Homo sapiens: one gene and its partner. The protein of the gene in region 1 purifies or fractionates together with the protein of each later gene. This does not show direct contact. Each region holds a gene or a part of one and is shown on either strand. Other genes may lie near its edges. The genes, in order: CFAP299 and ANKRD30B.

What was found.
Region 2: the proteins of CFAP299 (region 1) and ANKRD30B purify together in Homo sapiens (affinity purification with mass spectrometry, with the first as the bait; one large-scale study listed by BioGRID). This does not show direct contact.

The regions. Positions count from the first base shown.
Region 1 is NC_000004.12:80,863,525-80,867,360, forward strand, and holds part of CFAP299 (cilia- and flagella-associated protein 299), read left to right. Parts: intron 1-3,836. UniProt on the Homo sapiens protein: May be involved in spermatogenesis.
Region 2 is NC_000018.10:14,754,598-14,758,433, forward strand, and holds part of ANKRD30B (ankyrin repeat domain-containing protein 30B), read left to right. Parts: intron 1-301; coding exon 302-408; intron 409-3,217; coding exon 3,218-3,355; intron 3,356-3,836.

The DNA of each region.
Region 1 (3,836 bases):
GTAAAATCTCAGATTCTACATGCCCCTTGGTGTCTTATTCCCCACTTCAATATCAGAAGCAATGTGTCTTGATATTTCTTCATTGCTTGTTCATGTGGGGATTTTTTACATGGTTAACCAAAAACTAGTATTTTCTGCTTAGGTTGCCAATAAATAGATCCGTATTCATGGCTTCAAATGAATAGCATGTGATTTTTTTAATGCTTTTGTTGGTTGTACCTTGACTTGTTCTAGATAGGATTAAAGGGTTTTATCTAAGGAAAATATGAATTTTGGAAGTTTTTCCTTTATAAACATAGCATCATCATTTTTAAAAGCCTTTTAATATATAAAGTATCGTTTTCATGTGTCTTTTGGGAAATTAACTGTGATTAAAAATGTTATTAGAATGAAAAAGATCATATATTGTATGATTCCACTTTTATGAAAAATCCAGAAAAGAGACTCTATAGAGATAGAAAGTAGATTAGTGATTGCCTGGGGCTGGGGGTGGAGATAGGGATGGCTACAAATGTCATAAGGGATCTCTTGGGAGTGATGAGAATATTCTAAATTGGAGTTGTATTGTGCAACTCCATAAATTTACCAAAAATCATTGAAATCACTTAAACTTCATTGTGAATTTTTATGTTAAGTAAACTATACTTAAATAAAGCTTTTATTTAAAAATGTTTTTAGTTAAACCTAAGCAATTATTTATAACATTTTAAAATTATTCTTAAGTCTATAGGGCTCTGAATAACAAAGCTTTCAGTTACTGAAATACATCACACTCAGGCTGAAATAAACCTAATTCTTCAAGGGGCTCTTTTGACCTATTTGCCCCATTCTGGATGCCACAATAGTGGTTTTATTGTCAATTGGGTGTGTCTTGTATATATGTGTGTGTATGTGTATATATATAGGTATATATATATATATATACCTATATAAGTATATATATACCTATGTGTATACATATATACACATATATATACATATATACCTATATATACGTATATATACATATACGTATATATAGGTATATATATATAATAACTAAAACGTTTGTTTCAATTTTAGCTTCAAATTATATAAAAAGTTTTAACTGTGAATAACTAAACTTAAGAAAGAAACTGAACCATGTATGGCAACCCTAACATAACTATATACACCAGGCAATGGAATTCTGATATGATTATTCCATTTCCATATCCCCTAAGGAATTTATAAAACTCTTAACATGCTACAAATACAATAGCAACATTAATGACAAAAGTTTTCAAAAGCAATAGATATTATTTATTGAGTGCTTACCATGTATCAGGCATTACCAAGGGCTTAGCAAAATAGTGTTATTTAATTCACACACCAATTTAGGTATTATTATGCCCATTTTATTATAGAGGAAACTAAATTTTAAAATGTATTACTAACTTACCAGTGTCACACAGTAAGTAGGTGACAGAGCCAGCATTTGAATCCAAGTCTATCCATCATGCAGTAGATAAGAACCTGAATATCATGGGAAGCCAAGCTGGGTGTGAGTTTGGATGCTCCCCTCTCTAGCTACATATCCTTGGGAGTTACCAAAACTCTCAATGCTTTCATCTCCCACATTTATAAAATGAGGGTAATAATGCTATCTAGCCATAATAAAATGTTTGAAACAATTAAATGAGATAATGAATGTGAAGCTTTTAAAACTTCACTCAGAATATAGTGGCTTCTTAATAAACGATAACAAGTATTCATAGAAGAAATAATTACTATTAACTCTGGAGCAAAATATGCATTTTGAAATGAATACACAATTAACTGAGACTGTTAGTTTAACTTCATTCAAATTCTTAGGCAATCCACAAAATATAAATAAGGCAGTGAAATTTCAACCAACCCTCAAGTTCTTGACAACTATTAATATCTGCCACCACATCTGTCTGATTATCAGTGTTATCATTTCTTCTGCCTCTATAACCCTCAACTGTGCCATTTAAAAGATGTATTTCTAAAATTAAATGTTTAGTTGTAATTTCCTGACAATTTGTCAGCAATTACTACATACTAATAATTCCAATCGGATTTTAAAAATAATTTAATAAAGCATTGTGTTCATTAGAAAAATATTTTATTTTAGCAAACTTTTTAAAAATTTCACTAAAAAGTCTTCTTAAAAATCTTCCCAAGTCTTTGTAGATTCTGTGGCACATATACACCATGGAATACTATGCAGCCATAAAAAATGATGAGTTCGTGTCCTTTGTAGGGCCATGGATGAAGTTGGAAACCATCATTCTCAGCAAACTATGGCAAGGACAAAAAACCAAACACCACATGTTCTCACTCACAGGTGGGAATTGAACAATGAAAACACTTGGACACAGGGTGGGGAACATCACACACCAGGGTCTGTTGTGGGGTGGGGGGAGGGGGGAGGTATAGCATTAGGAGATATACCTAAGGTAAATGACGAGTTAATGGGTTCAGCACACCAACATGGTACATGTATACATATGTAACTAACCTGCACCTTGTGCACCGTAGAACTTAAAGTATTATATATATATATATATATATATATATATATATATATCTTCCCAAATCTTCTTATACTTTTACACATATGTAACCATACTTGGAAAGACATAATGAGGGAATTTACATTTGTTCTATGCAGGTTTGTGTGAGAACAGCCACAGGTGATTATCGTTTTTGCATTTAGAAGCTTAGGTTTAAAAAATTTAATTGGGCATTTTCTGGTTGAAAATTTAAAAAAATCATAGATACAATGATTAATAACCAGAATTCTAATTGAGAAAATAAACAACAGTATTTGCATGATGTTTACAAATTGGGTGCTCAGGGCAGATGACCCTGACAGCACATGAATGTAAGCTAAGCAGTTCCAGGCAGGCAGGGAGTCTCTGTTGCTCTACATACTTAAAGGAGAATCATGAAGAAAGAGGCTGCTCAATGGCCAAACTAGTTAAATGCTCAGGTTTAAGCAGGATTCTGTTGTTTTGTTTGTTTTTGTTTTGCTTTGTTTTTGGTAGAAACTTGCTGGATTTTTCAGGAAGGTGCTTAAGAGCACAGAACTAATGAATCTAAGTGAGACATTGAGAGTAGTTTGAGTGACTTGCCCAGGGCTGTATACGATGATTCTAGAGGGACCCGCACTTATAGTCCGCTTGACCTCACTTAAAGTCCTCCAGCATCAGAAAACCAAGAATTCACAAAAATCACAGAGCAGACATTTAACTCTCACAGAGCTGGAGAAGTGATATTTGAAATAAATTTAATCAGGTTTCAGGGAAAAGGGGATTTAACTGACCCAAGAAGGCTATATATAGTAACATAAAATAGTGAAATTATGGCCAAATGTATATAATTTTAGATTATCAGTCATTTTACTTACAAGAACAATGAAGTGTAAAGAAATTTTGGTATTAGCTTATGATAAACACCAAGACTTCACGTTTGTTTTCAAGTTCTTTAAATCGACATCAATTTTATAATTTTTATGTATTCATTTTCTGCTTAATCTAGAAATAATGGCAGTGAATTCATCAAGGTGATCATGAATTGTCTATATGTTCTTCTAGTTCTATCAATTTGTGCTTTAAATATCTTGAAACTTTGTTTTTAAAGGTTCACTCAAGTTTTGAATTGTATGTTTTTCTATGACATTAACCTTGTATCATTATGTAGTGAAGCTCCATCCCTAGTAATGGTTTTTATGTGAAAATCCATTTTGTCTAATATTAGTATACTGATAACTGCTCTTTTTGGATAAAAACTCTCCCGTATGTATGTTTTTTGATCACTTAACTTTCAACCTTTAAGTGTTATTGTGTTTC
Region 2 (3,836 bases), on another chromosome or scaffold:
AAAAGATACAGCCCTTGCCCTCATGAAGCTCTTGGTTTAGATGGGAAACCATAAAATCATTACAATATAATGATTTTTGGAGATAACCAGAATTAATGTGGTGATGCAGAGGCTGAATATTTACAAGGGAAGGTGCAGTGCATGGGAAAGCACAGAAAAAGGAGAAAGAAGGGACTGCTATTGATTTACTTATTTACTTTCTACTTTATGTGTTTAAGTTAATAGGATATAATATAAGGTATTCAGTTCAGCTGAGAAATATGTAATTTCATGAATTATATATTGTTCTGCTATTTTACAGGCTAGCCTCACACCCCTTTTACTGGCCATACAGAAAAGAAGCAAGCAAACTGTGGAATTTTTACTAACAAAAAATGCAAATGCAAACGCATTTAATGAGTCTAAATGGTATGGTAGTTCTTTTTTTTTACTAAAAAACACTTGACTAGTGTTCTAGAGTAATAATGCTCAAGTCAGAAATATTAAATTAACAACATTTAGTTAAAATTATTAGATTATAGTGAAACATATCAACACAAATTATCAGAAGAAAAGCAATTATTTGGACTGGTCAACATAAAAAACAGTGTATAGTAGGACTTATCTTCTCTTATTATATTGACTGATTCTTATTTGTAATCTGATGATTTTGGTTGCATTATTTTCTATTAGCTAAAGTGGTTCTGCATCAGTTTTAAGAAGTATGAACTTTTTTAGTTTGCTTTATAATTCAATATTGAATTATTAACAGTTTTATAGTATTTTTCTAACTTCTCTTTTTTATACACTTTTTTAATTTCTTTTTTTATTATTATTATACTTTTAAGTTTTAGGGTACATGTGCACATTGTGCAGGTTTGTTACATATGTATACGTGTGCCATGTTGGTGGGCTGCACCCATTAACTCGTCATTTAGCATTAGGTATATCTCCTAATGCTATCCCTCCCCCTTCCTTCCCCTCACCCCTCAACAGTCCCTGGTGTGTGATGTTCCCCTTCCTGTGTCCATGTGTTCTCACTGTTCACTTCCCACCTATGAGTGAGAACATGTGGTGTTTGGTTTTTTGTCCTTGCGATAGTTTGCTGAGAATGATAGTTTCCAGCTTCATCCATGTTCCTACAAAGGACATGAACTCATCATTTTTTATGGCTGCATAGTATTCCATGGTGTATATGTGCCACATTTTCTTAATCCAGTCTATCATTGTTGGACATTTGGGTTGGTTCCAAGTCTTTGCTATTGTGAATAGTGCCACAATAAACATACGTGTGCATGTGTCTTTATAGCAGCATGATTTAGAGTCCTTTGGGTATATACCCAGTAATGGGATGGCTGGGTCAAATGGTATTTCTAGTTCTAGATCCCTGAGGAATCGCCACACCGACTTCCACAATGGTTGAACTAGTTTACATTCCCACCAACAGTGTAAAAGTGTTCCTATTTCTCCACATCCTCTCCAGCACCTGTTGTTTCCTGACTTTTTAATGATCGCCATTCTAACTAGTGTGAGATGGTATCTCATTGTGGTTTTGATTTGCATTTCTCTGATGGCCAGTGATGGTGAGCATTTTTTCATGTGTCTTTTGGCTGCATAAATGTCTTCTTTTGAGAAGTGTCTGTTCATACCCTTTGCCCACTTTTTGATGGGGTTGTTTGTTTTTTTCTTGTAAATTTGTTTGAGTTCATTGTAGATTCTGGATATTAGCCCTTTGTTAGATGAGTAGGTTGCAAAAATTTTCTCCCATTCTGTAGGTTGCCTGTTCACTCTGATGGTAGTTTCTTTTGCTGTGCAGAAGCTCTTTAGTTTAATTAGATCCCATTTGTCAATTTTGGCTTTTGTTGCCATTGCTTTTGGTGTTTTAGATGTGAAGTCCTTGCCCATGCCTATGTCCTGAATGGTATTGCCTAGGTTTTCTTCTAGAGTTTTTATGGTTTTAGGTCTAACATGTAAGTCTTTAATCCATCCTGAATTAATTTTTACACCTTATACACTTTTTAAAAAATGCAATATTTGCTGGGCATGGTAGTTGTTGCCTGTTATCCCAGCAGTTTGGGAGGCCAAGGTGGTTGGATCACTTGAGGCCAGGAGTTTGAGACCAGCCTAGCCAATATGGTAAAACCGCATCTCTACTAAAAATACAAAAATTACTGCCATGGTGGCGCATGCCTGTAGTCCCAGCTACTCAGGGGACTGAGGCACGAGAATCGCTTGAACCCAGAAGGCAGAGGTTGCAGTGAGCTGAGATCATGCTACCACACTCCAGCCTGGGTAATAGAGCGAGATTCTGTCTCAAAGGAAAAAAAAAGCAATATTAAATAGAAACAGGAGTTTAAAACCATTTTGTCTTTAGGACGACTATTTGCTTTAATAAAGTTGTTTTCTTTGAAGCATATTAATTTTAGGTTATCCCTATGTGACTGACTATTAATTGCTATCACCAGATACTGTGAATTTATTATTTTTTTCATTTTTTTCATAGTGTATTTTTATTTTTAATTTGTATGGGTAGAGGGAAGAAAGACATCTTTAATTTGATTAATATTTTAGTTAATTAAGATAAGCCATAGGTGAATGATAAAGAGAAAAGAGATAGGCTTTTGATTCACACAAGACTGAGTTTAATTTCTAGCTTCCTCACTTGATAGGTGTGACCTTGCAAACATTACATAATACCGAGTATGACTTTCTATGTGAAAAGGAGAATAATGATATGTGCTTTAAGGATGATTGTGTTGAAGTAACATTATAAATATCAACAGCATTTAATTCAGTGTCTCATACATTCTTATCAACATCATTAACTAAACTTACTATGACTACTACTAATATCATTATTCCTAATATTGTTTTAAGCCTTCAGATTGCTCTCTCTTGTCTGACTTCTAGCTGATTTTTAAGTATAAAATATTATATCAGACTAAGCAAGAAATAGATAATTCTTCCCTTAAATCTTTGCCTCTTTTAGGTTAGTGAACAAATCATAATTCCTTGCCCCTCAAGGGACTTTATGTTAGCCAATTCTAGTATGCCACACCCCAGTGGGACATGAGTCTTTTTGCCCCTTCCTTTTAGATTTGGTGGTGATTTGCAAGGATAAACACTTGAGCACTCAAGATACTTATGTTTGTTAGTACATGTAAATGGTTAATTCTACACTGATAGGCACATATTAAATTGATTCTGCTCATAATAAGTTATCTCTTTGTTATTTTAGCACAGCCCTCATGCTTGCCATATGTGAAGGCTCATCAGAGATAGTCGGCATGCTTCTTCAGCAAAATGTTGACGTCTTTGCTGAAGACATACATGGAATAACTGCAGAACGTTATGCTGCTGCTTGTGGAGTTAATTAGTAAGTGTTTACATTTAAAGGCTAGGTGAAATTTTATTGTTTGTTTCAGGGAGTTTTTGAAAGACAGTGACTTAGTTCACTTCATCAGCCAGAAACTAGGCAAAAAGCCAGACTAGTTAGAAGGAGTACTGGGTCCAGGATTCTTTATTTTAGGACTTTCAACAGCTTTATCCCTAGGGATCCTAATGTTGACTGCTTGATTTGAAGTATAACCCCTAGGCTCGGGATAAACACAGTGTCACAATTTTGATTTTTCTAATTAGTTATTTGGGTCTGGAAATGTCCACTTCGGCAGAAAACCTGATAATGTCCCCTGGGGGCTGTCTTCCATACCTTAATACTTGAATTTTTAAAAGGAATCTAAGGGGTTCCTTAAGTCCAAGGAAGACATTCATTTTGCATAAGTCAGAAGGATTTGGGGGGACACGGCCATTCTCTTCTTTTTGTTGTTTCCATTGATTCTGTTGCTGCGCCGTTGCCA